Homo sapiens: one gene and its partners. The protein of the gene in region 4 purifies or fractionates together with the protein of the main gene of each other region. This does not show direct contact. Each region holds a gene or a part of one and is shown on either strand. Other genes may lie near its edges.

Region 1 (7,962 bases), on a different chromosome or scaffold from region 4:
GAATAAACTGATATCTTCCCCCTTTCCCCCAACCTTTTTTTTTTTTTTTTTTTTTGAGATGGAGTCTCACTCTTTCGCCCAGGCTGGAGTGCAGTGGCGCGATCTCAGCTCACTACAACCTCTGCCTCCTGGGTTCAAACGATTCTCCCACCTCAGGCTCCTGAGTAGCTGGGATTACAGGCACCTGCCATCATGCCCAGCTAATTTCTGTATTTGTGTAGAGACAGGGTTTCACCATGTTGGCCAGGCTGGTCTTGAACTCCTGACCTCAGGTGATCCGCCTGCCTTGGCTTCCCAAAGTGCTGGGATTACAGGCGTGAGCCACTGTGCCCAGCGCCCTTTTTTGCTGAATAAACACAGAAAAGGAAAAACAGTAGTTCAGTATCTACTGAGTAACTGTTTAGCTCCTAACATTTCAACAAGATAATCCTTAGCAGCAGCTCTTCACTCAAATAGCAAGGATGCTTTGGTTACCAGGATGATAAGAGTTACTGTCTTAATTGTTGGTTTAGTGACCTTTACAATAGCATTTGGTTCATCCAGTGTAAAGAATCTAAAATGGCAGAGAGCTATTTGAACACATAGGAATCTTTTTCTTTACACTAGGAGCTCCTTGAAGGAAAGTAATCAGTTTTGTTTATCTTGGTAACTCTAACAGCATATGGCACCATGCCTGGCATGTAAAAGGAACTCAGTCAGTATCTGATTAATGAATGATTTAGATGGTACTTAATGGAACTTCTTTCTTTAGCTTGTATCTCCCAGGTTATAGTTAGCTATGCACATTGGAATAGACCACACATTTCCTAGGGGGAAAGAGGGAGCAGAGGAGAGGGGGAGAAGGAAGAGGGAAGGAGAGAGAGAAATACTGTGCTTTCTTCATCTTTCTGTCCCAGTGCAGAACCTGGCCCAGAGCAGGTGGTCAATGTCGGTTCCTAGTAGAATTTCATACCTGGGAAAGAGTGAGGATTTTTACAGAATCATCAGGGTGAATTAGTCCCCTCTGCAGGTCAACCCTGAGGTTCCGGGCCACGTGAACCGGTTCCATAGCTTGGAGCAATCTCTCCAGAATGGATACACACAAAGTAGTCTTTTCCCTGAAGGAGACATCATAAATCTTATTAGTTCATATCCTGCCCAGGTAGGAAGTAACAACCTAATAATAGCTGAAGCTTGCGTCAGCGTCTCCTCCACACAGACTTCTTTTTGAAACAGCAGCTTTCACTCACCTACTAAACATTTGCTAAGTACCTATTATGCGCATTGCCTGTGCTGGGGCAACAGAGAAGAATAAGATATGCACTCTAGTCTTCTTTTTTTTTTTTTTTTTTTTTTTTGAGGTGGAGTTTTGCTCTGTCGCCCAGGCTGGAGTGCAATGGCCTGATCTTGGCTCACTGCAACCTCCACCTCCCAGGTTCAAGCAATTCTCCTGCCTCAGCCTCCCGAGTAGCTGGGATTACAGGGGCCTGCCACCATGCTGGGATAATTTTTGTATTTTTAGAGACGAGGTTTCACCATGTTGGCCAGGCTGGTCTCGAACTCCTGACCTCAGGTGATCCACCTGCCTCGGCCTCCCAAAATGCTGGGATTACAGGCTTGGGCCACCGCACCTGGCCTTTTTTTTTTTTTTTTTTTTTTGAGACAGAGTCTCGCTCTGTTGCCCAGGCTGGAGTACAGTGGCACGATCTCTGCTCACTGCAACCTCCGCCTCCTGGGTTCAAACAATTCCCCTGCCTCAGCCTCCCGAGTAGCTGGGACTACAGGTGCATGCCACCACACCCGGCTAACTTTTTGTATTTTTAGCAGAGACGGGGGTTTCACTGTGTTAGCCATGATGATCTCGATCTCCTGACCTTGTGATTCTCCCACCTCAGCCTCCCAAAGTGCTGGGATTACAGGTGTGAGACACCGTGCCTGGCCCGATATATTCTCTAGTCTTAAGGAGCTCAATACAATGAAAGATACAGAAAAAAAAGGCAACTGTAATCCAGATAAATAAACGCTATGGGCTAAGACTAGAAACTATAGGAGCTTAAAAAAGAACAGAGGGTACAGGGAAGGCTTCCCAGAAGGGTAACATCTAAACTAAATTTTAAGAAAAAGTAGGAGTTATCCAGAAGAAAAGTGTTCTAGGTAGAGGGAGTAGCAGCACATGAAAAGGCAGAGAGGAATAAGACATAGTATTATACTTTCAAGGAACAAGTAGTTTGGTATGATTGGGGTCAGAATGGGAGAGAGGTGGTGAGAAGGTAAAAGGGTGAGGTGAAGGACAAGAACTGAAACTGAAAAGATGCACAGAAGCCAGATTCTAACAGGTATTTTATGTCATGCTTGGAATTTAGACTTCTTCCAGAAAATCAATGGCAGGCCATAAGTGGTCTTAAAGAAGTAAAATGACGAGATCTGACTTATAGAATTCACTCTGCACCAGTGTTAGGGGAAGAATTTTCAATTACAAGGCAGTAAATGGTGAGAGGTGATGAAGGAGTAAACCAGGGGAGCAGCAGTGAGGATAGAGAGAAGAGGGAAGAACTATGTAAGAGAAACTGATGACTACCAGTGGTAGATACAGAAGATGTTTTCAGAACAATTTTCTTGTCTCTTAATAGACACTACAAATAAATGGGCTAATATATTGTTAGTAGTAGTACACAATTCAACTGATACAACCTTTTGGGTAGGTAACTACATGATACAAATGAAAAGCCTTAAAAATGAACATACTCTTTTAATTCAGGAATTTCACTTTGCATAATTGAACCTAAGGTAGTATTAAGAATGTTTTTATACCAAAGATAATTGAAAACATGCTATTTTCACAAAACTTGTACACAAATGTTCACAGCAGTGGAAACAATCCAAATGTCCACCAAGTGATGAAAGGATAAACATGTGTTATGTGCATATAATGAATATTATTCAGCCATAAAAAGCAATGAAGTAATGATACATATCACAATATGAATAAACCTTTAAAATATTATGCTAAGTGAAATAAGCCAGACACAAAAGGCTTCCTTTTGAGAATGATTCTGTTTATATGAAATGTCCAGAATAGACGAATCCATATAGAAAGTAGATTCCGCTAGGCTCGGTGACTCACGCCTGTAATCCCAGCACTTTGGGAGGCCATAGCAGGTGGGTCACCTGAGGTCAGGAGTTCAAGACCAGACTGGCCAACATGGTGAAACCCCATCTCAACTAAAAATACAAAAAAAATTAGCTGGGTGTGGTAGTGGGCGCCTGTAATCCCACCTACTTCAGGAGGCTGAGGCAGGAGAATCGCTTGAACCCAGGAGGCGGCAGTTGCAGTGAGTCGAGATAGCGCCATCGCACTCCAGCCTAGGCGACAAGAACGAAACTCTGTCTCAAAAAAAAAAAATAAAATAAAATAAAGTAGATTCCTGGTTGCCAGAGGCTGGAGGAACGGGGAAGAGGAGGAATGAGGATACTTACAAGTATGGTTTTCTTTTCCTTTTAAAAAAAAAATGTGATTACAGGTAAAATTTACCATTTTAACCACTCTTAAACGCACAGTTCTGTGGGAATAAGTACATTCACTTTGTTGTCCAGCCATCACCATCGTCCATCTCCAGAACATTTTCCTCTTCCCAACCAGAAACTCTGCATCCATTGAACACTCCCTATTCTCCCCTCCCCAAGCACCTGGCAACCACCATTCCACTTTCTGTCTCTCTAGATTTGACTACTCTAGGTATGTAAGTAAAAGCATACAACATTTATCCTTTTGTGTCTGGTTTATTTCATTTAGCACAACGTCTTCAAAGTTCATCTGTCAGAATTTCCTTTCTTTTTGAGGCAAGATGTACAATATCCCATCATATGTATATACCCCATTTTGTTTATCCATTCATCCCTTCATAGACACTTTGGTTGCACATGTGGGTTGCATTGCTTCTGTGCCTTTTAAAATTTTAGCCAATCTAATAGTGTGCAGTAGAATCTCACTGTAATTTTAATTTGTATTTCCCTATTTAATGTTGAATATCTTTCTACGTGCATATTTATCATCTGTACTTTTTTTTTTTTTTTTTGAGATGGAGTCTCGCTCTGTTGCCCAGGCTGGAGTGCGATGGCGTGATCTTGGCTCACTGCAACCTCCACCTCCTGGGTTCAAGTGATTCTCCTGCCTCAGCCTCCCGAGTAGCTGGGATCACAGGTGTCTGCCACCAAGCCCAGCTAATTTTTGTATTTTTAGTAGAGATGGGGTTTCACCAGGTTGGCCAGGCTGGCCTCGAATTCCTGACCTCAGGTGATCCACCTGCCTTGGCCTCCCAAAGTGCTGGGATTACAGGTGTGAGCCACCATGCCTGGCCCCATCTGTACTTCTTGTTCAAATCTTTGGCCCATGTTTTAATTGGGTTATTTATTTTCTTGCTATTTAGTTTTGAAAGCTCCTTACATATTCTGAAAAGAAGTCTTTTATCAGATATATTCTTCACAAAGATTTTTCTCCATTTGTGACTTTTCTTTTCATTCTCTTAACTGTATGTAACCTTCGAAGAACCGATTTTTTTTTTTTTTTTTGAGACTGAGTCTCACTCTGTTGCCCAGGCTAGAGTGCAGTGGTGCGATCTTGGCTCACTGCAACCTCTGCCTCCCAGGTTCAAGCGATTCTCCTGCCTCAGCCTCCCGAGTAGCTGGGACTACAGGTGCCTGCCACTATGCCTGGCTAATTTTTGGTATTTTTAGTAGAGATGGGGTTTCACTGTGTTAGCCAGGATGGTCTCTATCTCCTGACCTCGTGATCTGCCCACCTTGGCCTCCCAAAATGCTGGGATTACAGGCGTTAGCCACCGCGCCCAGCCAATTTTTGTATTTTTAGTAGAGACAGGGTTTCACCATGTTGGTCAGGCTGGTCTGAAACTCCTGACCTCATGATCCGCCCACCTCAGCCTTCCAAAGTGCTGGGATTACAGGCGTTAGCCACCACCTAGCCTGAAGAACCGAATGTTTAATTTTGATTAATTCTACTTTGTATCACTTTGTTCTTTTTTTTAGACAAGCTCTCTCTGTCACCCAGGCTGGTGTAGTGGAGCAATCACAGGTCACTGTAGCCTCCACCTCAGCCTCCTGAATAGCTGGGACCACAGGCATGAGCCACCACACCCAGCTCAATTTATTCTTGTATAGATCATGCTTTTGGTGTCATATTAAAGAAGTCTGTTTAACTCAAAGTCATACATTTTTTTTTCCTGTTTTCTTCTAGAAGTTTTGTAGTTTTAGGTTTTATATTTAGGTCTATGATCTACTCTCATACACTGCTGGTAGAAATGTAAAATACTATAACCACTTTGGAAAACAGTTTGCCAGTTGCTTAAAAAGTTAAATATACACCTACCATACCATCTAGCCATTTCATTCCTAGCTATTTACTCAAAGAGAAAAGAAAGAATATTTTTATGTAAAGACTTGTACATGAATGCTCACGGCACTGTCATTTGTAATATCTCCAAACAGAAAACAATTCAAATCTCAAATGTTCACCAACAGGGGAATGGATAAAAAACTGTAGTACATTCATACAATGGACTTACACTCAACAATAAAAAGGAATGAACTATTTATTCATGCCACATAGATAAATCTCAAAATAACTATGCTATGTGAAGGAAACCAAACAAAAGAATACATAATGTATGACTCCATTTGTATGATCCCTTCCCCCCATGTCTGGCCAAAATAAAGGGCAAGTTCATCTACAGTGAGAGAAAGCAGATCAGTGGTTGACTGGTTGAAACAGGGAGAGATTAGCAAGGGGTATGAGGGAGCCTCTGGGAGTGAAAGATACATTCACTATCTTAATTGTGGCGATGGTTTCATGGGTATATACATATGTCAAAACTTGCCAACTTGTACGTTTTATTAAGTGCAGTTCATTGTATATAAATTATACCTTTGAAAGCTGTTTAAAAAAAAGTAGTGGTACGTTAAACTGCACAGTGCACAAATTTCAGATCCTATGTGACCCTTCTTTGCCAACGAGCCAAAGAGTTAATGCTTAAAATTAGTCTTGTTTGATTTTCATGTTCTAAAGCAGTAATCTTAGGACTTAAACTCTCTCAAAAAAAACTGTCAAGATTCTAACTTACATCTGCAAGATCAGATTGTGAACCAACACACAACAACTTATGTGGTTTAGCCAGGATAACAGCAAAGTATCTGAAGACTGCCAGATACTATCCAGAGAATTATTCCCACAAGGTGCAGTTGGTATCTACTATGTATCCAGTTCTGAATTATTCTGTCTTTAAATTCCATTAAAATTGTTCCCTAAAGCACTGCTCCTTCATTCAGCAAACTATCTTCCCCATGGACCTGAATCCTCAAATTCTGCCTCACTTCAGTTCCTACTGCATCTCTGCTGTCAACTTGCGGTATGACCTCTGGAAGTCTCTTCATCTCTAATAGGAGAGGTTGGACAAGGTGGCCACTCTAAACTCTGTGAGTCTCAAATTTAATTGGGCGTATACTGCATTATGTGCTGGGCCCTAAGAGGGATGCAGACATGAACAAAATGCGGTCACTGCCTTCAAAGAATTTACAAACTGGAAATAGACACACAGAGAACTATAACATAGGTAATAGTGTCAATTATCATTAACAGAAATAACAATAATGTCCTTTAGCAGATCTAAGGAGCAGTCATTTGCAACTGGAATAATTGAGAAAAATATTTTGGAGGAGATGGCTCTTTAGTGGGCCTAAAAGGATGGACAGAATATGGACAGACAGCAAAGTATTTCAGTTAGAAAGGCTGGTATGAGTAAAGTTAGGAAAGTGCAAGTCAGGCTTAAGGAAAAATAAGGGTGCCACATGGTAGCTGGAGCAGATGAAAAGAAGTGGAGTGGAGGAAAAAAGTGAGGTTGGAAAAGTAGGATGGAAATATACTGTAAAGGGCCCAAATGGCATTCTAAAAACTCACTACAGGCAATGGGAAACCACGGAAAAGATTAGCACCAGCTGACTCGAGATGTATGCTCACTGGGGTTACAAGGTGGGAAGGAATTTGCTAGAAAAGGAATTTGCTAGAAAAGGAATTTCAGAGGTAAGGAGAAGTCAGACTAACACTACAGACCTAGCAATAGGGAAAAAATGAGGGCTTGAATTAAAGAGGAGACAAATAAGAGACATTTCATAGGCAGACCCAAATAATGTTAACTGATAGACATCATGAATGGAGAACACTTACAGAAAAGGAAGGAATCTTAGAAGGTCAGAGCCAAGAAAGCGCTCTGAAATCATCCACTGTTGATTCAGTGGTTCATAATCTTTTCAAGTAGTAAGGTCACTTGAAAGTCTTTGATCACAAACATTTCAAAACTCTTTTAAATGATCAAATTATCAAATACAAAGTGGTTTTTTTTTCCTTTTTTTCCCCAGAATCCAGGTAAGAATTATAAAATGTTTTTTTAATCTTTTTTTTTTTTTTTTTTTTTTTAGACAGAGTCTTGGCTGGGCGCAGTGGCTCATGCCTGTAATCCCAGCACTTTGGGAGGCCGAGGCAGGCAAGGCAGATCACTTGAGGTCAGGAGTTCGACACCAGCCTGGCCAACATGGTGAAACTGCATCTCTATTAAAAACACAAAAAATTAGCTGGGCGTTGTGGTGGTGGCACGTGCCTATAGTCCCAGCTACTCAGGAGGCTGAGGCAGGAGAATTGCTTCAACCTGGGAGGCGAGGTTACAGTGAGCTTACATCCTGCCACTGCACTCCAGCCTGGGCAACAGAACGAGAACCCGTCTCAAAAAAAAAAAAAAAAAAAAAAGGGCCTCACTCTGTCACCCAGGCTGGAGTGCAGTGGTGCAATCTTGGCTCACTGCAACCTCTGCCTCCTGGGCTCAAGGGATCCTCCCCCTCAGCCCTCTAAGTAGCTGGGACTATAGGCACGCACGCCCAGTTAATTTTTTGTTTTGTTTTGTAGAGACAGGGTTTCACCAT
Region 2 (7,962 bases), on a different chromosome or scaffold from region 4:
CTCTCGTGATGTCTGTTTGTCTCCCTTGCAGGGACGTCACAGGTGTCTTGTCCCTAGCAGCCTGGTCCTTACATTGTGACATTCCTGCTGACTTTTCACCTGTGGCTTTGAGAGCCACTGATGATCCTCGTCTGGGTCTGCTATTTGCTGAGGGTTTGCAGGCTTTCACTTTTCACTCCTGTGATTTTCTGCATTTATGGCTGGGAATGGAATTGCATTTCACAAGGCCTTGCTCCCCTTCGTCGGGGCGGAGTGGGCAGGTGTGGTGTTGCCCACCAGCCCCTCACCCGCAGTCTGTCTGCAGGATGAAGTCGCTCACACAGTCACCGAGAGCCGGGTCCTCCAGAACACCAGGCACCCGTTCCTCACTGTGAGTTGCCCTCCCCTTCCCAGACAGTGTGAGGCCAGCCTTTGGACAGAGCTCAGAGAGAGAGCCCTAATCTTCTGGTACAAAGCACAGTCTTGGGGTAGGCCAGGCGGGCAGGGCAAGGTGTTGCTGCGCCCTGCCAAGTCATCCGAACCAAGACATGTGGTGGGGGTGAGCAGGCTCGGGGAGTGGGAGGGTGACAGCTTCTTCATAGATGGTGGCTTCATGTAAGCATTTGAACTAACTGAAGATATCACATTATTTGCTGGCTGCTGTCTCTATGAGTTAGGAGCACTTAGCCCAGCTGGTTGAAGTGGAAACATTATTTTTTTTGTTTTTGTTTTCAGATATGCTCATAGAAGCAGATGTGTTAGCATTGTGTTGTCTGTCAGCCTGGACTGAGTAGATGCCTGTTTGGGCTGCAGTCTCCATCAAGGCCAGTGGCCACCAGTTAAATGGACTAGATTGAGGATGGCTTATGTATCATTTCTTTATCTCAGTTGCTGTCCAGGTATCCTATTAAGCCACAGTACTTTTTCAAATAAAATCTTATGAGGTACCTCAGTGCAGAAAACAGAATAGTTGAGTTGTCATGAGCTGAAGGACCCCCTGGTGGGAGTCTCTGAGGAACTCTCTGTAGATCTCCTTAGTGCAGTGGAGAACTACTGTTTGTTGACTGACAGCCTGTCCATCCTGTCATTGAAGTTGGCTCCCAAGCCTTTGCCACTCCCAGCCACAGCAGACATCACTTGTGTGTGTAAGTTGAACACATTTTACTGTAAAAACAAGAGCCATGGTTGCTCAGAACAGCTCTAGTTCTCCCTTGGCTGTGCCTGATGGAGGCAGAGGACAAGATGGTTCAGCATGTAACCCTTTCCTACCGCAGAGCCATGCCTTCACTTAATGCCCCAAAAGGTGCAGCCGGTATGTGAACCCCATATGGCTGACTCCTGGGGGCCCCAGCCAGGGCAGGGTGTGTGTGTGCAGAATAAGCAGGGCCAGGGCCCTGCCCTGGCATGGCTCAGCAGAGCCCTCCTCCCTCCCACCTCCCACCCTGCTGCCTTCATCCCCCAGGCGCTGAAGTATGCCTTCCAGACCCACGACCGCCTGTGCTTTGTGATGGAGTATGCCAACGGGGGTGAGGTGAGCCGCGGCTGCCTTGACTTTGCCCTCTGGGGCCTCCTTCTTTAGGGTGGGGCGGGATGGAGAGGAGCTGTGGGTGAGATGGAAGGGTGGAGGGAAATTTCAGTGTCATCTAGTGCCCCTCTCCCTTGAGGCAGGCGGCTTCGTCTCCATTTTGGGGGGGCAGTCACTGAGGCTCAGAGAGGTTAAGTGGCTTGCCCAAGTTTACACAGCTAGTGAGTGGGTGGGTCAGGTCCAAACCAGTCCAGAGAGGTGTGGAGAGGGCTGTGGGGCGATAGCACTGGGAAGGATGGTCTTAAAGGCCCCAGAGAAAGCCCCCAAGGGTTAAAACCTAGCAGCCCTCCGTTCCCGTGTCCTCTCGAAGTGAATTCCCGCAGCCGCTCAGCTTCCCCTTACAGAGTCGCCTCACTTTTGTCACCCACTCCTTGCCTCGCGCCTTCTCTGTGCAGTGGTTGGCACACCTGCTTTGGGATGCGTGGTTTGCTCATCTGTCTGATCTGGGCTTGCCCATGGCCTATTGTTACTTGGTCATGACGTGTGCTTCTTTTTGCCTCCATGCCATCCTCCCTCCTGTCTCGGATGTCTCTCCCATACCCTCTCATGGGTGCCTCCTGGCAGACCCTCGCCCTTCCCCCCAGCTCTGTGTCACTTATGAGCTTCTGCGCTCTGCCTTGATTGGTCCCTCTAGCTGTCACTTGCTGGTTCATGATACAGGTGTCACCACATCACTGCGCTGGGGCAGGGGGCTGGGAAGGTGAGGGCAGGTGGGTGGGCTGGGGCCTGACCTCCTCTCCCCACCCCTTCCTCCTGCAGCTGTTCTTCCACCTGTCCCGGGAGCGTGTCTTCACAGAGGAGCGGGCCCGGTTTTATGGTGCAGAGATTGTCTCGGCTCTTGAGTACTTGCACTCGCGGGACGTGGTATACCGCGACATCAAGGTTAGTGGCAGGGTGTGCGCCAGGCTGACCTGTGGCATGCACACCACATGGGACTCACACTGGGGAAGTTGGGCTGAGCTTCTGCCCTCATTCGCCAGGCTCCCCACCAAGGTCCAGGGTGGTGGCTGCCCTCATTCGCCAGGCTCCCCACCAAGGTCCAGGGTGGTGGCTGCCCTCATTCACCAGGCTCCCCACCAAGGTCCAGGGTGGTGGCTCTGTGGCAAGTTGCCCCAAGTAGGGACCTTCCCAAGCCTCCCATGAGCGCTCCTAGGCCACTAGCGGAGTGTCAACTGCCACAATACCTACTTTATTTGTATTTATTTATTTATTTATTTTTGAGGAGTCTTACTCTGTTGAGTGCAGTGGTGTGATCTCGGCTCGCTGCAACCTCTGCCTCCCGGGTTCAAGCGATTGTCCTGCCTCAGCCTCCCGAATAGGTGGGATTACAGGTGCCCGCCACCATGCCCAGCTAATTTTTGTATTTTTAGTAGAGACGGGGTTTCATCATATTGGCCAGGCTGGTCTCAAACTCCTGACCTTGTGATCCACCCACCTCAGCCTCCCAAAGTGCTTGGATTACAGGCATGAGCCCCCGCGCCCGGCCAATTTTAGAAGATAGTTTGGCAGTGTCCACCAAAGCTGAGCACCAGTCATCTGCCCTAGCTGTGTGCACAGGAGAAGTGGGGACACACACTCACCTTAGAAAGTGTCCCCCTCACTCAGCAGCAGGACTTACTCTAGCCCCAACTGGAACAACCCAAGTATCCACTGTGAGAGGAACAGTCAGATCCACTGTGGAGTGTTCTCACAGTGGGACGCCACACAGCAGTTAGGAATGAGCTACAGCTACACACGACAGTGTGGACGCGTCTCATAGGCTAATGTCGAGGGAAAGCCGCACAGAGGAGGTGAGTCCACAGTTCACAGGTGTGTCTGTGTGCAGTGGTACAGATGGGAAGTAGAGGTTAATTCTTGTGGGGGATGGTCAGTAACCGGGAGGGGCACACAGGGCCTTCCAGGGGGAGATGCCACCTCAGCCTCGCAAGTAGCTGGGACTATAGGTGTGTGCCACCATGCCTGGCTAATTTTTTTTTTCATATTAAGAAATATGGAGATGGGGTCTCGCTGTGTTGCCCAGGCTGGTCTCAAACTCATGGGTTCAAGCAATCCTGCCACCTAAGTCCCCCAAATTGCTGGGATTACAGGTGTGAGCCACTTTGCCTGGCTGCATATTTCATAATTAAAGGACAGAAAGTCTAGAAAAAAAGAATAGAAGAAAGCTAGTGCCCCCACGTTCGAAATAAGAACCACAGTTCACAATGGGGACGGTGGGTGGACAGGGCCTGGCTCTCGGCTCTCCCTGCCCAGCTGTTCCCAGGTACCATGGGGGTGGGCCAGAGGGTGAGGAGGGTTGGATCTGGCCTCTCTCTGAGCCTCAGAGGGTGAGGCTGTGTGTGCTGGGCCCAGCCTGGCATGGGAGGGTTGATGTCCAGGAGCCCCGGGCATCTTTCCCTGGAAGGAAAGGCTGGGGTGGCAGGAAGCCTTGGGAGCATGCACCTGAGATCCGTTGACTTTTCCAACAGCTGGAAAACCTCATGCTGGACAAAGATGGCCACATCAAGATCACTGACTTTGGCCTCTGCAAAGAGGGCATCAGTGACGGGGCCACCATGAAAACCTTCTGTGGGACCCCGGAGTACCTGGCGCCTGAGGTGTCTGGGGTTGGTGGGGGTAGGAACGTGTGAGGCCAAGGGTAGGGGGATCCCCCAGACCTGTGTGTTTCCAGCCCAGATGCCCTGAGGGCAGGACTGTGATGCCAGCCTCAGGGCCACGGGCCCAGCCCTCATTTCTCCTCCATCCTCAGGTGCTGGAGGACAATGACTATGGCCGGGCCGTGGACTGGTGGGGGCTGGGTGTGGTCATGTACGAGATGATGTGCGGCCGCCTGCCCTTCTACAACCAGGACCACGAGCGCCTCTTCGAGCTCATCCTCATGGAAGAGATCCGCTTCCCGCGCACGCTCAGCCCCGAGGCCAAGTCCCTGCTTGCTGGGCTGCTTAAGAAGGACCCCAAGCAGAGGTGAGGGCTGGCGTCGGCCCCACCCAGCCCAGCGCCAGCTGCTGCCACTGTCCCTGCGGCCTGGAGGGGGCAGCGTCCACAAGGGTGCTCGCTTGTAGGGTCGCAGTGTGTCGTCCCCACACAGCCCCTGAAAACGTCCACAGTGGCACTTAGGGAGTGCTTCCCCCAGGGCAGGCCCATCCTTGACACTGCCTTATTTTATGGGGACACTGAGGAACAGGGCATCCCCTGGGCCTGGCTGGGGCCACCAAACCATATGTGGCAGAGCCAGGATAGGAACGGAGCCTGCCCTACTAACTCCCTTTCTGGACTCAGGGTAAGGCCAGGCAGTGAGGACACGTGGGTCCGGGTTGCTGACTCCCTGGCTCTGACCCTGGGCACGTGAGCTCCCTCCCTGAGCCTCGGTTTCCTCCTCTGTGAAGTGGTTTGTGGTCAAGACAGAATCATTAAGGGCCATACAGGGCCTGCCTGCTCCGAAAGCCCGTCTGCCCGAACCCAGCTGCTCCGGGAGGCAGGTGCTGACGGCCGTCTCTGCACAGGCTTGGTGGGGGGCCCAGCGATGCCAAGGAGGTCATGGAGCACAGGTTCTTCCTCAGCATCAACTGGCAGGACGTGGTCCAGAAGAAGGTGAGCCCCACTGCTTGCCCCAGCAGGACCCTCAGGGACCTGGCCCACTCGTGGTGACCTTGGTTGAGGCCTCCTGGCCTCAGGGTCCCTGAGCCTGAGCTCCTCTCCTCCGTAGCTCCTGCCACCCTTCAAACCTCAGGTCACGTCCGAGGTCGACACAAGGTACTTCGATGATGAATTTACCGCCCAGTCCATCACAATCACACCCCCTGACCGCTGTGAGTGCCTGGGGCCCCCGCGCTGGTGTGCCTGCCCCAGGGGTGGAGGGATGGGATCTGCTCTTAACTCACTTCTCAAGGAGGGCCCTCGAAGGCCCCCGCTTCATGTCTGGGAGATTTCCCCAAGTCTGCTCTCAGGCCCTTTTGCTGTTGGTCCTCTTTGGACCTGGTGAGGCCACCAGGAGCCATTGACTGCAGCACGTTCTGGAGCTCAGTCGGGGGGCTCAGGGCAGGAGGCAGCCCGGTCCCTGAGCCTGGCTGGGTTCACTGCTTTACAGCTGTTTGGGTTCTTACTCTGAACTCAGCCCAGGGCTGGGCTATGCTGGGGACACAGCACTGATTGAGCCAGCCCTGGGCCCTGCCCTGGAAAGCTCCCAGCCCAGGTAGGGTGGGCGGCCTGGAGTGGTCAGGGCTAGGGCGTGGGAGGCCAGGGACTGGGGAATCCCAGAGGAAATATCCGACCTGGCCTGCAGTTAGGGAGGGCTTTCTAGAGGAGGAAGCAAACGTGTCAGCTGGCCGGAGGAATGACGTGTGGGATGCCAGCAATGGGAGAAGCATGGCATAGCTAAGGACCGGCAGCAGCCAGGGAGATGGTGGTGAGAAGAGAGGGCATGGGGCTGGAGTGCAAGGGTCTGGGGGCCACTGGGAGGGGTGGGGACTGCTTGCATGGCGGGAGCCAGCCATGGAAGGGTTTCATACAGAGAGGGACAGGGTTAAAGCAGGCCTTTAGAAAGCCCCCCTGGCTGCCCGTGGAGAATGGATGGGAGGGTGCGAGAGGCAGGCCAGGACAGGGCTCTGGGCTGGACTCTGGCATGGTGGTGTGTGGGGCAGAGAGAAGGTGGGAGGCTCAGAAGGCCCTGCCAGCTGTGGGGCGCATGGGCAAGGGCACAGGAAACTCCCAGAGGAGGCCGCCCGGGGCTCAGGTTTGGGGAGTGGGTCCGTGGCTGAGGGCCTCCATTGCGGAGGGATGGGCCTTTCCTGTCCTGTCCTGTGGGCAGCCCCCGCCAGCTGGGGCCGTTTCCCCAGGGAGTCTGGGCAGGTGTCCCAGGCCCTCTCCTGACTGGTCCTCCCCATCCACCTCTGCCGCCCACAGATGACAGCCTGGGCTTACTGGAGCTGGACCAGCGGACCCACTTCCCCCAGTTCTCCTACTCGGCCAGCATCCGCGAGTGAGCAGTCTGCCCACGCAGAGGACGCACGCTCGCTGCCATCACCGCTGGGTGGTTTTTTCCCCCTAACTTTTTACTTAGCCTTTTTGGTTTGTGTCCCCACCCCCACCTCCTCACCCCCTTTCCAGTTCTTCTTCAGGCCCCTCCCAGACGCACCCCAGCGGCCCCTGCAGCCCCTGCCTCCAGCCTCCAGCCTCACCTTTGTGCCCAGACTCGCATTTGGAAGACTCCACCTCCCGCCCAGGCCTGGGCTGTTGGGCGGTTGGAGATTCAGGTTTTAATCCACACAAGCCCCAGTGAGGGGTGAAGCATGGCGCCTGGGGCCTGCCTGAGTTTCTGGCCTGGGTGTCGTGCTGGTGTCTGCCTCCGCGCTGCTGCATCTGGACGAAGGCTGCCTTCTGGTGGGACGCGACACCCGGCAGACAGTGGTGCTGCCTTCCAGGCCCCGTGGCCTAGGCTCGGAGTGGCCAGGCACGGGGCGGTCCAATCCCCCACCCGCTGTCCCCCTATGGGGGCAGAAAAGCAATAATGTCCAGGGGCAGGCAGGGGCCCTTGGGAGCTGCAGGGCTGGGGGTTAGGGCTGCTCCCTGGTGAATGGAGTCAGATCCTAGGATCTGTACCATGGGGAACCAGGAGTGGCCGGGCTGGGTGCCGCCTCCTGGTCCGGCCTCCTCCCCACCAAACTGTCCTCACCCTATGGATGAGGCAGGAGGAACATTTGGGGCCAAACCTGCCTGCCTCCCAGCCCCGTGCCTTACTAGGGCTTCCTTCCAGCTGGCCTTACCTCCCGCTGGACCCTGGGCCTGGCCTGGCCCCACTGGGGGCTATGGGCTGGGCTCACCCTCTCCTCTGCGGGGGTGGAGGGCCACCAGCCTTGGCTGTTACAATCTTACACCGGACAGTATTGGGCCCCATGGACTTGGTCAGGGAGGGGTGGGGGTGGGCATCTCTGGTACCTATTGGGGTGGGGGGCCTCTGAAAAGGGAGGCTCCTAGGCCCCCCTCACCCCTCCCTCTCCCCAGGGCCCCACGTTCTGCAGCCTTAAGGTTGAACATGAGTGCACGTCCATGTCAGTGCTGTGGGACTCCTGTGCGTGCCTCGGACTGCGTGTGTCGGCGGGACGCAGGCACACGTGGGTGTGTGTGCATGTGTGTTTGTGTGAGGGCAGCGTGTCCTCCAGTGTGCATGGTGTGTGGGCTTGGGCCCCATCCCTGGCCCGAGCATTTCATCCTGTGGGGGAGGGGTGCTGACCTAGTGGGAGGAGCCCCACTGTGATCCATGAGCTGCCCTGCCCACGCCTCCCCTCCCTGTAGCAACACCTCTGGGTGTTTGGAGTTTAGCTTTTGTGGGTTTGCTCTCCCTATCCCATCTCCTGTACTACACAGTTCATGGCAGGGTGGGGAGGGGTGGGGTTGGTTCGGGT
Region 3 (6,747 bases), on a different chromosome or scaffold from region 4:
AGGTCACCGAAGAAACTTACTAGATGTTGCTTCTGGGTAGATGCACTAAGGATTGGGGAGTAAGAGAAAGATTTATTTGTGGTTCCTTTCATTTGTCCTACAATCTCAGCTGCTATCTAATTGTGGAGGCAGGAGAGTTTCTTTTCATATCCCAATTTTGCCTTATGAGGCGTTTCTGTCCATCAGAGATGACTGGTTTGGGTTTATCTCAGTTTCCTCTCCAGCTGAGTGTCCCCATGAAGTCACCTTCTGAGTTGTCTGGTTGGCCACAGTTGAAATAAAAGGTTCAGTTGAGTATCACACACATGCTTTCTTTGAAATAAAGTTTCAGGGTATAGTAGGAAGGCACAATGAAACTGAAGTAGAGGTGGAATCATGTTGTAAGTGAAGGGAAATGGCCTTGTTACATTGGAGTATGATAAACAATGCTAACTTCTTAAGTAGCTGTACCTATTTCATGTAATTTTGATTATGATTATAACCTGCAACAATTTTAATTATGATTTTAACCTTGCCAGAATTCACCTGACAAGAGTTTTGTCAGGAATTAATTGAATTGTCTTTGTAATGGGGCAGGAAAATGTATCTGGATTTTTTTTTTACATATGTATGTATTACTTTTTCAAAAAAAGCAAGAAGCAAGAGGGAAAAAAAATCCAGCGGAGGCTTCCAAACAGTTAAACAGACTGCAGATTAAATGAGAGGCAATTGTGAATTAAAGGCAACTGTGATTCAACTGCCCCAAAGCGGCTGATACTCAGGGCAGAGCTCAGGGCGAATCCAAGAGCTGGGAAAAGGAAATGATGTGAGACTTTGTGTGAGACAGTGCGGACAACTCATACCAGCTGAGCATAGCACAGACTAGAAAACCTATTACACTGAAATGCTATTGAACTGATCTTCAGAAGCCACGCAGATATGCTTCTGAATACACCAAAAATCAACACCAGAAATGCAAAATGAAACAAGTTTATTTTCTCCAATAACTTCTGTAAATTACAAAGACAAAATACTAAAAACTACAGCATATAACTTTTCAATATTTAACCAGAGTACTCGTAATAAATATGCATCCGGAAACAAGATAAAAGGCTACACCTCGTCAGGCATCCTACAAAAATGTCTCAAGTTTTATATACTCTGCAGCATTTCTGTGCGGGGGCAGAAGGGGCTGTTGTGTATTTTCTGAAGTGCTGTGACAAAAGGTCCTTTCACATTTCTTTGGAGCATTTTTGAAATTGCTTAACTATAATTAAACAACTTAAGAAAAGTAACACCAAGCTTTAAAGCCATTTTTGCTTTGCTGTCATTGGTCCTTATCCAATACAGATCAACATATCATCCAGCACAGCCAAGCACCCACTGAGGCCAAGCAGCCTTGTGGGACATGGGCCCTGTCAGAGCAGGCCCTACTTTCAGTTAAATACTTTGGAGAGTCCAGGATTCTGTCTCTCTCCCTCAACAAGATTAATGCCATAAGGGAAGTTGCAAGCGTGTTAGAAACATTTTTAACCTGAAAGTAAAGTGAACAGAAATATTTTTTTTCCGAGACCTCTGCTATGCACCATAATATTACCATATCAGGGTTTTTAGCTTCAAAGTTGAAAAACAGATTGGTACTAACAGTCCTTCTAGAGATCATTTATGGGCGCTGGTAGAGTCAGGGCATTCAAAACATTCAACGGGTAAAAGGAGGATTTGCTAGATTCAGAAATGCGCTACAATTCTGAAGACACCATGGCTGAAAGTTCTAGGGGTGTTGGTGGCAGCTCATATTAGGTCTGGCATACATAACTACCTTTTGCTATAGCTGAAAACTTTAAGGAAAAAGTTATATTTTTAAAAAGTCTCAAGCATGGCTACCTAAAAAGTATTTTGTTAATATAATCTACTGTAATTTCACTTATTTAGGAGTTCAGATATGAAAACATCTTTATGAGCCAATAAAAATATTACAGAGAAAAAAATACTTCTACAAAAGTTGAGGTTAAGAACTATGAGGCATTTCTTTTGGCTGTAAACACACAGTTTACTGTCCCTTGTTGAAACACAAATGTTTGGATTTCCTGAGCTTCACAGATAACAGCAGGAGGCAAGTTTGCATAGAAAATTTGCAGTATGTCAACAATTTACTTAAAAAAAGAACTTTTAAGGACAACTTGCTTTTGTTTTTAAGTTTCATATTTTAGTTAATAGTGCTCATCAAACTGAATATTGATAAGCAGGGTGATGAGATATATAAGGCAGATGGGAAGAAAACATGGAATTAGAGTTTTTAAATCCACAGGATATCATGATGAAGGGTTTTAAGCAGATACTTCATAACTAGTGCCATACTAATTTAGTTAGAAATTAAATCATGTTTTGGAATTGAAAGCCAAAGGCAAAAAGAGCTCTCCTGTGCTGAATGGCACTGCCCGAGTACAGGAATGGAAGGAGCATTCACTGCAGGAGGCCTCAGCACATCACTCGGTGGTGATAAAGCCACTCAGCCAGTCAGGGATGGAGGAGGGGGCCCCCCTGCCAGCATCAGGACCAGACCTCTGGGCATGGCTGATCCCAGCTCTGGAATCTGAAGGGATGACAGGGACTTTCACCTCTGCTGGTTTGAAGTCTCTAAGCAGTTCTGAGGCGGGCAGTCTTCTCCTGGGAGAAGTCCTCAGAAACCTTTGGAAAGGGAAGAAGCTACGCTAGGCCACAGTGCATACCACGAATGAGAACAATGGCAGCGGCTGCCGACAACTCTGGATCTAACACAAAGACAGATGACAAGGGGCAGTGTCCTGCCAAGGAATCCACTTTACTTCTTTTGAGACTGGTTTTTACACATGGTAAGGATTTGCTTCAGTACTTTCTGGACATCTTCATCCATCTGGCCCTAGGATATTCAAACACAAGATACTCATTAGAACCTAAATTAAGCCATGGCACTTTCTTCTCTGGGGAATGAGATGGCTGACTGCAATGAAGACCTGGGCTAATTCCCACATCTTTCACAGGAATGTCAGCCCTATCATTTCCCAAATTTCTATGAGGAACTGAGTCAAAGAAAGGGCCCTGCCTTTATCCAGCTGGAAGATGAGGTGGCAGTGTCTACCAAAACCCTCAGCAAAAGCTATCTGGGGTCTCAGTTGCAAATGTGAGTCCAGCAGCCAGAACACCAAGCATCATAGAGCCAAGGCAGCACTGGTAACTAAGAAGATCAGCATTGCTGGAAAATAAAGCCCCCGTCTTCCCAGTGGAGGACCACATCATCCCTCATTCCTCAATAAATGATGGGAGGGTGGGGCATGGTGGCTCATGCGTGTAATCTCAGCACTTTGGGAGGCCGAAGCGGGTGGATTGCTTGAGCTCAGGAGTTTGAGACCAGCCTGGGCAACATGGCAAAGCCCCATCTCTACAAAAATACAAAAATTTGCCAGGTACGGTGGTGGGTACCTGTAATCCCACCTACTTGGGAGGCTAAGGTGGGAGGATCACTTGAGCCCGTGGGTCGAGGCTGCAGTGAGGCGAGATTATGCCATTACACTCCAGCCTGCATGACAGAGTGAGGCCCTGCTTTAAAAGATGGGGCTGTTCCTGGTAAACAGGGCACAAGGCTCCTGACACAGAATCCAAAGCAATGCAAAAGGCATATTCAGGCTTTCCAGTGAAAAGGATTCTCCTCTAATTCTTGTTCATTCTCCTAGTTAAATGATGGGAGTTCTGTCAACATCTGCTGCCGTATTTCTTTAGGATGTCCAGATACTTCAAGGGGCATAACCATACCTGCACAGCATACAGAAGATGCATTCTGTAAACTGATATGACCTCCTGGTGTTGTTTCTTGCATTCCTAGAAAGGGAATATTTCACATTATTAATGAGCTTAAGAGATCTTTAAAGAACAAAAACAAAAAACTATGAGAAAGCTGCAGCCAAATGCTACCCAAGTGGTCCCCTCCACTTTATGCTAGCACTGGAAGCTTCTAAAATTGTTGTGGCCTTACTGGCTTGTGTATTTCTGAATACTTGTCAATCATCTTAGGGAAAAAAGTCTTGGTATGTCAACTCTAGAAAAAACTGTATAAAAAGGAGTTATTATCACCCCACATTTGGTTTTAAAAATATATGCTCTTTGGGCGGCTGAGGTGGGTGGATCACTTGAGGTCAGGAGTTTGAGACCAGCCTGGACAACATGGTGAAACCCCGTCTCTACTAAAAATACAAAAATTAGCCAGGCGTAGTAGTCAGTACCTGTAATCCCAGCTACTCAGGAGGCTGAGGCAAGAGAATCGCTTGAACCTAGGAGGCAGAGGTTGTAGTGAGCCGAGATCACGCCACTGCACTCCAGCGTGGGTGACAGAGCAAAACTCTGTCTCAAAATATATATATATATGTGTGTGTGTATGTGTGTGTGTGTGTATGTGTGTCTATATATGTGTGTATATATGTATATATGTGTGTGTATATATGTACATATACTTATGCAAATACAGCTACATTAAATGTAAATACTGCAAGGAAATATATCAAATGTAAAAAGTGATTATCTCAGAGTTATTGAATTATGGAAAATTTTTATTTATAGGAACTTGTTAGAGTTTTCTTTATTTTTCAACTTTTCTACAATGACCAAATATGTACTAATTTAATTTTTAAAGCCTATTATTTTTAAGGGAATTATTGATTACCCACTATATGGCCAGCATTGTATAATCCTTGGGGAGCTCAATTATTTAGCTATCAGTGTACTAAGAAGGCAAAGAGGGTGGTGGCCCCAATCTCCAGTGGTTCCTCAATACAGCCGCTGATGCTTCTATTTCTCCTTGTTGAGCTATTACTCCAGTTCCTCTCAGTGGCTGTTTCAAGGGTCTTATCTCTGAAACTCTTGTTCTAAGAACCTGTCCTCCTAATTCATCATGAAAATTGAGACCATCATATATGGATTACTTCAAAAATGTACAAAAGTCCATAATACCCATTCTTCCTTCCCCCCATCAGTGTCAGAGTATGAGGTATCTTTCCTGTTATTAAGGGACATTTTAAAACCCGTCCTTTAAGTTCACATCATAAGAAGGCACATTTGGCATTTCTCTGTGTTGTTCCCTCCCCACCTTTCAGCAACCTCTACTCAATTATTTATGATTTTATCTTCTGATCTGGCTTCCTTTCTATCACTGCCTCTGTCATCATTCGCTTGGCTTTGATATCTGTGTGAATGATCCATCTAACACCTGGACCTCTCAGTTCCTCAACTTCAGCTTTAATAACATGCTCCTCTTCAGTTCAGCAACTCCTGTCATGGTTGTAGCCCTGCCTCTATCATTACCACCTCTGAAATCTCAACTGAAAGCATCCCACACCCTAACCACCACTTCCCATCTTTCCAGCAAGCTTGCTTCAGGCTTCCCCCAACCCCTACTGCGACTGGTTAGCCCCACCAGATACCTATCTACTTACTTACTTCTCTAGCAGCCAGTCTACTGCGGTCCAGATTCTACCCTCCTCCCCACTCCACTGGAATGGTTCTCACCAAGGTTCCCAAAAGCCAGCTAGTGCCATATGTCAGTCCTTGCTAAGTAACAACATATTCTTACTCAGGCCTTCAAGACTCAGCACAAGTGTAACTCCCGTAGGAACCTTTTCATGACTCAGCAAGATTGGGTAGACACATTTCCTTTGTATGCCCACGGTATGCTGGGCATCTCTTTGCTGATAACTTATATAGAGTATAAACTCCTTGAGGGCAGGGACTGAGTCTTACTCATTTTATATCATCAGCCCCATGTATAATACTGATGTAAGAGCTCAACAAACACATGTTGCGTAATTATAAGAATTACTGTATAAACCAATAGCACTTTATCTACAAGTCTGTAATACCATTTTATCAGGAGAAGAATGACCTGCAGAACACAGTAAAGAGCAGCTTCTCCTAAGTATCCACCATTTCTAGAGCTGTTTCCTCCAAAGCTAGCATTGAACTTTGTGGCCAGCCAGAGTAAGGACTGCAGAAACCTGAATTCACTACAGTTAGGTCTATTCCGAAGAAATCATCAAATCCATGTTCTGTTTGTATATGGAAGCTAGAGACAGTCCAGGACAGACTAACCCTGGACTTTAGGTAGAAAACGGAATGTACCCATGCCAACTCAAACCTTAACAGATATTGTGGTAAGCTAAATAATGGCTCTTGAAAGATGTCCACATCCTAATCCCCAGAACCTGTGAATGTTAAACTTTATATGGCAAAAGGCATCTTGCAGATGAAATTAAGGGTTTGAGATGGAGAGGGAGATTATCGTGGATTATCTAGGTGGGCTTTAGATGTAATCACAAGAGCCCTTATAAGAGGGAGGCAAGAAAATCAAAGGCTGAAGGAGGAGATGGGAAGACTGAGCAGATGCTGGAGTGATGTGCCTCGAAGATGGAGTAAGGGGCCATGAGCCACAGAATGCAGGCAGCCTCTGGTACTGGAAAAGGCAAGGAAATTGATTTTCTCCTATGGTCTCGAGGAGGAACCAGCCCTGCCAACAACTTGAAGTTAGTCCAGTGAAAGTGATTTTGGAATTCAGTTCAATGCAACTGTAAAATAATACACTCATGTTGTTTTAAACCAAATTTGTGGTGATTTGTTACAATGGACCCAGGAAACAAATTTAGATAAGCAAGGGCTTTCCTGGGTGAAATAAGGAGAGGGGCCAAGAAGCAGCTTCAGATATATAGAGATGCAACTACTAGAGATCCTGGCCCCTAACAAGAAAAA
Region 4 (6,970 bases):
AAAAATCACTGCTCTGAATCAAGTCTAGGGCTCTCACCACCGAGCCTCTTTTGACTGAGCCCAACTTCGCCGGCGCGTCTGGACAGCCGGGTTCGAGCCGCAGGGGTTTGGGGCAGGGGTGCCAGGTGCGTGGCTCTGCGAGGGGATTAAAGCCCAGGTGCGGCCTCTGCCTCCAACTCAGGTCTCCCTGGGGCCGCCCCAGGCCCCACAAGGGCCAGGTCGGGTGAGCGCCCCCCAAGGGGCACCAGACCCCGCCAGGTCGGGGGCCCCCTCGCCAGGGCCGCGTGGCCTCCGCCCCGGACTTACAGAGAGCACCCACCCCGGTCTTCAAAAGGCCAGAGTCGTCCCGCCGCCTGGACCCCTCAGCCACCTCCCGGGCCTCCTTCCAGCGGCCGCCACCTTCTCCACCAGCTCCCTAGTTCTGGTTGCCACCCAAGCTCCGTCCCCATGGCAACCGCCACCGCCGGAAGCGACAGGCCCTAAAGCGACAGGGCAGGGCGGTGGTCACGTGCCAGGAAACGGTGACGAGCGTGCCCGACGTGCCTCCTGCCGGTCGCTGGCGGCATAGACTTTCCTCGCTTTTCTGTCCTTCCTCCGCTCGCACGATCCCACCTTTTCACATGGTCCCGTCCCCTAAGAAGCTGCAGCGGCCAATACTGCCAATTTTTACTTTCCGCAACCTTGGCAAGATGGGGTGGAGAAGTATGAACTCGGATACAATGCTCTTTTCCAAAAGCAAACTGAATTTCCAGGTCTCATGGATGCAGCACACAACCGTCCTGCCTGCCTCCTCACCGGGCACCGCGTGTTGCAGACAATTCCAGCTGGCTGGGGGCAGATATGACACAGGGTGCACCAGCTTGCGGTTCTCAGCACAAAGCGTTTCCGCAAAACCGGTCTGGCTATATCTATTAGGATCATTCCACGTCAAAGTGGCTCTCCACTAACATCTCATGGAAGACGGCAACAGGTGGCCACACGGGTTTCCACTGGGACCCCTGCAGGAAACCAGCCAGAGCCACTGAGGCAGAAGGCTCTCTGCTGCTGTCATTTTAGGAGAATGTGAATAATTCTCCCCGCCCACACTGCCATGCCCCAGTGATGGTAAATTGATTAATATGCATACATCTTAAAATAAAAAAGAAAGGATAAACTGGGCAAGCTGTGTTTATTATAGTCTGAGACTTTATAAAAGAGACTGGAAAATACGTGGAATTAGAACATGCAATTTAAACAGCAAACATTGGTAAACACAGCATGTCTGTGGCTACCAGAGGGGAATACGTATGGCTGTCAGGTCAAATAGAGTTTGAGGGAATTCGCCCAATAGGAAGGCTTTGGAATTGAGTGTGAGAACCTGTGGCTGGAAGCACACAGCAATACCAATCCCATCAAGGCAAGCTGGTATCTGTATCCAACCACAGCAAAACCAGTCCCAAGGAACACAGGGCTTGCCTGGCAGAACTGCCAAAACAGAAAGCGGTGTGCAAGAACTGGGGAAATGAACACTGATACCATGGAGAGGAAAAAATAATTCAAAGTATTGGCAGGAATCCCTGAGAACCATTTTACCATCTTAAAAGAGACAAAAAATAAAAGGGAGGAAGAATAAGCATTTTCAAGAGGTCTGATCTACTCGTTCCTATCCATACCTCAGCGGTTTACAAAATAGCGCTGATCTCAGGGCATAGCCAGGAGGTTCAATTATAAAAAGTCAAACTAGCAGTGGGCTGGGCGCAGTGGCTCACGCCTGTGATCCCAGCACTTTAGGAGGCCAAGGCAGGAGGACTGCTTGAGCCCAGGAGTTCGAGACCAACCTGGTCAACACAGGGAGACCCTGTCTCTACAAAAAATAAATTAGCTATGCATGGTGGTGCACGCCTGTGGTCCCAGATACTTGGGCGGCTGAGGCAGTGCCCACAGCGTCAAGGCTTCAGTGAACCTTGATCACGACACTGCACTCCAGCCTGGGTGACAAAGCAAGACCTTGTCTCCAGAAAACAAAAACAAAAACACACAAAAACGGAGGGGTTCTTACTAGCGAAGTGAAAGGAGCTTGCTGCCCTCTGGTGGGTTCCTAAAGAGGAAGCTGACAGGACACCACGCTGGGCCACCTGGGAAGCCTCCAGGCTTTCCCTGTTCTCCAAAGGGAGCTACTATGGCCCTGACAGCCCAGCTGCTGAGGAAGCACAGTACTTAACCATTTCCGTATCCACAGCAGCAAGGCCTCAGTGCAAAGAAATATGTTGGTCAAAGCCTGACTTTGCAATTGCTAGCCTGTTTTGCCCAACTTTCTATGAAGCTCTTCTGACCCCATCTGAGCTTTGGTTTGGGAGGGTCATAAGAAATTCAGCTGGGGTGACAACAGGGTCATATCAGCACTGTAAAACTCTTTATTAAAAATAATAATAATAATCACACCAGTACCTGCCAGAATAACTTCCGCCCACTTGCCCACAATCCAGGGAATTCCTATTTAGGGCCGTGGCCTAATTTGTGAAAGAGGCCAAGCCTAAGTTTTTAAGAATGCCTTAATCCAGGGAGATTACACTGGTGGGCCACAGTACTGCCACCACACAGAAGTTCAGGTTACAAGCCTCTTCCAGATCCTTATGCTTCAGGGAGAGAAGACAAGTTGGAAATCCCTAGACCCAAGTCCAGGGCAAGGGAAGATGCTTTCCTGTTACTGTTCCCCAGGGACAATCATCTTTGCAGAGGAATAATGTTGCAGCTGGAAGAAAGAAGAAAAGGAATGGCGTAAGTTTGGAGGCTCCCTTCAGGAAGGTCAGAGGCTGAGCCCTTCTGACCTTTTCACCAATGTTCTTTCATTCTTTTAAAGCAAATGCCTAGTGCATGAATGAACTGGAGAGACTCCCAGGAGAGACTCTGGGGCTCCCTCTGCTTCTAGAGCTGTAGTCTCGTTCCTACCACGAGGATTTATCTGCAGTTTCCATGCAAACTGGGGATTCCCATTATTCCCCAATGTCTCCCCAGCCTTCCCCTCCAGCTTCATGTTTAACAAACACTCAAATGATGCCCCAGTGAGAATGAACAGAAACAGATACTTTACCCCAGCAGTCCTTTTCCTGCCCAGCGTGTTGGAACAAGTCTAAGCTGGTGTTTTTCCCCCCTGCGGATCACTGTCACATTCAGGGGCTTCTGAAAAGAAAATAAGCTCATTTCGTGTTCAGCCTCGTTAGTACTCAGAGATGCAGGCTAAAATGCTGAGATCCCATTTTTTGCCTATCAAATTGGTAAAGATTTACATTTGCAGCATAATCCTGTGGTTGGCGAGAGGGTGGGGAACGTGGCACTGCACTCTCAGGGCAGCCAGGGTGCTGACCTCAGTACCATCTTCCTCAAAAAACACGTGTCCCACCACCAACGATCTTTAAAAGGTACATCCAAGGTACATAGTACACAATTGCAAGATGACATACAAATTACAAGACATACAAATGCCTGTAATCCCAGCACTCTACAAAAAGTATAAAAATTAGCGAGACATACAAATGAAATGTTCATTCCAGGACTGTGTAGAAATTCAAAAACTGAAAACACCAGAAATGTCCATCAATAGGTATTGTTCAAATACAGTACAGAGAATGAAGGGTTTTAGTCAAAACAAACCAAAACCCCACCAAAGTATGAACCTATTTGATAATATTTTCTTTCTTTTTTTTTTTTTTTGAGACACAGTCTCACTCTGTCACCCAGGCTGGAGTGCAGTGGCACAATCTTGGCTCACTGCAACCTCTGCTTCCCAGGTTCTAGCAATTCTCATGCCCCAGCCTCCTGAGTAGCTGGGACTACAGGTGCCCGCCACCACACCCGCCTAATTTTAGTATTTTTAGTAGAGACAGGGTTTCGCCATGTTGGCCAGGCTGGTCTCAGAACTCCTGATCTCAGGTGATCCACCCACCTCAGCCTCCCAAAGTGCTGGGATTACAGGTGTGAGCCACCGTGCCCGGCCGATAATATTTTCTAAAAGGACACCTGTGTTGCTCTAGTGTGCGAAGTTTTCTGGAAGAACATGGAAAAACTTGTTAAGAGTGGTTACTTCCAGAGAGGACTAGTCCTTTGGAAAAAGAAGATGTTTACTTTTATATATTTCCATATCATTAATTTTTTAACCATGCGTATGTATTGCTTTATTTTTCTGAGACAGAGTCTTGCTCTGTTGCCCAGGCTGGAGTGTAGTGGTGCAATCTCAGCTCACCGCAACCTCAGCCTCCTAGGTTCAAGCAATTCTCGTGCCTCAGCCTCCTGAGTAGCTGGGACTACAGGCATGCAGCACCATGCTCAGCTAATGTTTCTGTATATTTAGTAGAGACAGGGTTTCACCATACTGGCCAGCCTGGTCTCAAACTCCTGGGCTCAAGTGATCTGCCCACCTCAGCATCCCAAAGTGCTGGGATTTTGGGCATGTGCCACCACACCTGGCATGTATGTATTACTTTCTTTTTTTTGAGATGGGTTCTCTGTCGCGCAGGCTGGAGTACAGTGGCACAATCTCGGCTCACTGCAACCTCCGCCTCCCCGGTTCAAGCAATTCTCCTGCCTCAGCCTCCTGAGCAACTGGGATTACAGGCACGTGCCACCATGCCCAGATAATTTTTGTATTTTTAATAGAGATGGGGTTTCGCCATGTTGGCCAGGCTGGTCTTGAACTCCTGATCTCAGGTGATCCACCCACCTCAGCCTCCCAAAGTGCTGGGATTACAGGCATGAGCCACCACACCCAGCCTGTATATAGTACTTTAATTTAAAAAATTAAAATTAAAGCAGGGGGAGTACATACCAAAAAAATTACAAATTAAAATACGATATCCAGGCACGGTGGCTCACGCCAGTAATCCCAGCACTTTGGGAGGCAGGAAGATCACTTGAGCCCAGGAGTTGAAGACCAGGCTGGGCATGGTGAAACCCTGACTCTACAAAAAGTATAAAAATTAGCGAGGCATGGTGGTGTGCACCTATAGTCCCAGCTACTCGGGAGGCTGAGGCAGGAGGATTGCTCAAGGGAGGTCAAGGCTGCAGTGAGCTGTGACTGCACCACTGCACTCCAGCCTGGGCAACAGAGTGAGACCCTGTCTCAAAAAAATAAAAATAAATAAATAAAACAAGATGCCATCAAAATCTAAAACTTCTATGTATCAAATGACACTATTAACAGAGTGAAAAGGCAACCCACATGATAGGAGAAAATACATACATGCTGGGTACGGTGGCTCATGCCTGTAATCCCAACACATTCAGAGGCCCAGGCAGGAGGACTGCCTCAGCTCAAAAGTTCAAGACCAGCCCGGCAACAAAGAGAGATCTCGTCTTTACAAAAAACATATATTTTTTTTAATTAGCCAGGCTTGATGACGCACATCTGTAGTCCCAGCTACTTGGGAGGCTGAGGTGGGAGGATCACTTGAGCCCAGAAGCTCAAGGCTGCAGTGAGCCATGAATGTGCCACTGCACTCCAGCCTGGGTGACAGAGTGAGATTCTGTCTTAAAAAAAAAAAAAAAAGAAAAAAGAAAATACATGCAAATCATATATCTAATAAGGATTTAACATCCAGAACATATAAAGAACTCCTATACCTCAACATCAACAAAAAAATCTGATTAGAATATGAGCAAAGGGCTGGGTGTGGTGGCTCACGCCTGTAATCCCAACACTTTGGGAGGCCAAGGCAGGCGGATCATGAGGTCAGGAGATCAAGACCATCCTGGCTAACACGGTGAAACCCCGTCTCTACTAAAAATACAAAAAAAAAGGCCAGGCGCGGTGGCTCACGCCTGTAATCCCAGCACTTTGGGAGGCCAAGGTGGGCAGATCACAAAGTCAGGAGATTGACACCATCGTGGCTAACACAGTGAAACCCTATCTCTACTAAAAATACACACACAAAAAAAATTAGCCAGGCTTGGTGGTGGACGCCTGTAGTCCCAGCTACTCGGGAGGCTGAGGCAGGAGAATGGCGTCAACCCAGGAGGCGGAGTTTGCAGTGAGCCGAGATTGTGCCACTGCACTCCAGCCTGGGTGACAGAGCGAGACTCCGTCTCAAAAAAAAAAAAAAAGAAAAGAAAAGAAAATGAGCAAAGGACTTGAATAGACCTTTCTTTTTCTTTCTTTTTTTTTTTTTTTTTTTGAGACAGGGTTTCACTCCTGTTGCCCAGGCTGGAGTGTAGTGATGCAATCCCTTAGCTCACTGCAACCTCTGCCTCCTGGGCTCAAGCGATTCTCCTGCCTCAGCCTCCTGAGTAGCTGTGACTACAGGCACAATCCTCCACACCTGGCTAATTTTTGTATTTTTTTCCAGAGACAGGTTTCACCATGATCCCCAGGCTGGTCTCAAACTCCTGAGCTCGAGTGATCCGCCCGCCTCAGCCTCCCAAAGCACTGGGATTACAGGCATGAGACACAGCGCCCAGCCTAAATAGACATTTCTTCAAAGAAGATATACAAATGATCAAAAAGCACAGGAAAAGATGCTCCATGTCACTAATCATAAGAGAAATGAAAATCAAAACCACAATGAGATTCTACCACACACTGATTATGAAACAGAAAACAAGTGCTGGCGAGGAAGCGGGGAAAATGGAGCCCTGTGCACCACTGGTGGGAATGTGAAACGGTGCACGGCAGTGGAAAACAGTAATGGAGGGTCCTCCAAAACCTAAACAAAGCGCCGGGCACGGTGGCTCACGCCTATAATAGCAGCACTTTGGGAGGCCAAGACGGGTGGGATCGCTTGAGCCCAGGAATTCAAGACCAGCCTGGGCAACACGGCAAAACCACAAAATGCAAAAATTAGCTGGGCATGGTGGCACATGCCTGTAGTCCCAGCTACTCTCAAGGCTGAGGTGGGAGGATTGCTTGAGCCTGGGAAGTCCAGATTGCAGTGAGCCAAGATCACACCACTGCACTCCAGCCTTGGCAACAGAGAACCTGTCTCAAAATAAATAAATAAAT

Evidence for each region.
Region 1: the proteins of PSMD9 (region 4) and PSMD5 fractionate together in Homo sapiens (co-fractionation; 2 studies listed by BioGRID). This does not show direct contact.
Region 2: the proteins of PSMD9 (region 4) and AKT2 purify together in Homo sapiens (affinity purification with mass spectrometry; 3 studies listed by BioGRID and IntAct, with this or other methods). This does not show direct contact.
Region 3: the proteins of PSMD9 (region 4) and RAI14 purify together in Homo sapiens (affinity purification with mass spectrometry; 2 studies listed by BioGRID and IntAct, with this or other methods). This does not show direct contact.

The regions. Positions count from the first base shown.
Region 1 is NC_000009.12:120,832,360-120,840,321, forward strand, and holds part of PSMD5 (26S proteasome non-ATPase regulatory subunit 5), read right to left. Parts: intron 1,098-7,962; coding exon 953-1,097; intron 1-952. UniProt on the Homo sapiens protein: Acts as a chaperone during the assembly of the 26S proteasome, specifically of the base subcomplex of the PA700/19S regulatory complex (RC).
Region 2 is NC_000019.10:40,232,453-40,240,414, reverse strand, and holds part of AKT2 (RAC-beta serine/threonine-protein kinase), read left to right. Parts: intron 1-304; coding exon 305-370; intron 371-1,441; coding exon 1,442-1,510; intron 1,511-2,323; coding exon 2,324-2,446; intron 2,447-4,029; coding exon 4,030-4,158; intron 4,159-4,310; coding exon 4,311-4,525; intron 4,526-5,064; coding exon 5,065-5,152; intron 5,153-5,267; coding exon 5,268-5,370; intron 5,371-6,463; coding exon 6,464-6,543; 3' UTR 6,544-7,962. UniProt on the Homo sapiens protein: Serine/threonine kinase closely related to AKT1 and AKT3. All 3 enzymes, AKT1, AKT2 and AKT3, are collectively known as AKT kinase.
Region 3 is NC_000005.10:34,826,819-34,833,565, reverse strand, and holds the end of RAI14 (ankycorbin), read right to left. Parts: intron 3,835-6,747; coding exon 3,769-3,834; intron 2,879-3,768; coding exon 2,801-2,878; 3' UTR 954-2,800; downstream 1-953. UniProt on the Homo sapiens protein: Plays a role in actin regulation at the ectoplasmic specialization, a type of cell junction specific to testis. Important for establishment of sperm polarity and normal spermatid adhesion.
Region 4 is NC_000012.12:121,912,045-121,919,014, reverse strand, and holds the end of PSMD9 (26S proteasome non-ATPase regulatory subunit 9), read right to left. Parts: intron 3,160-6,970; coding exon 3,071-3,159; intron 2,732-3,070; coding exon 2,704-2,731; 3' UTR 718-2,703; downstream 1-717. UniProt on the Homo sapiens protein: Acts as a chaperone during the assembly of the 26S proteasome, specifically of the base subcomplex of the PA700/19S regulatory complex (RC).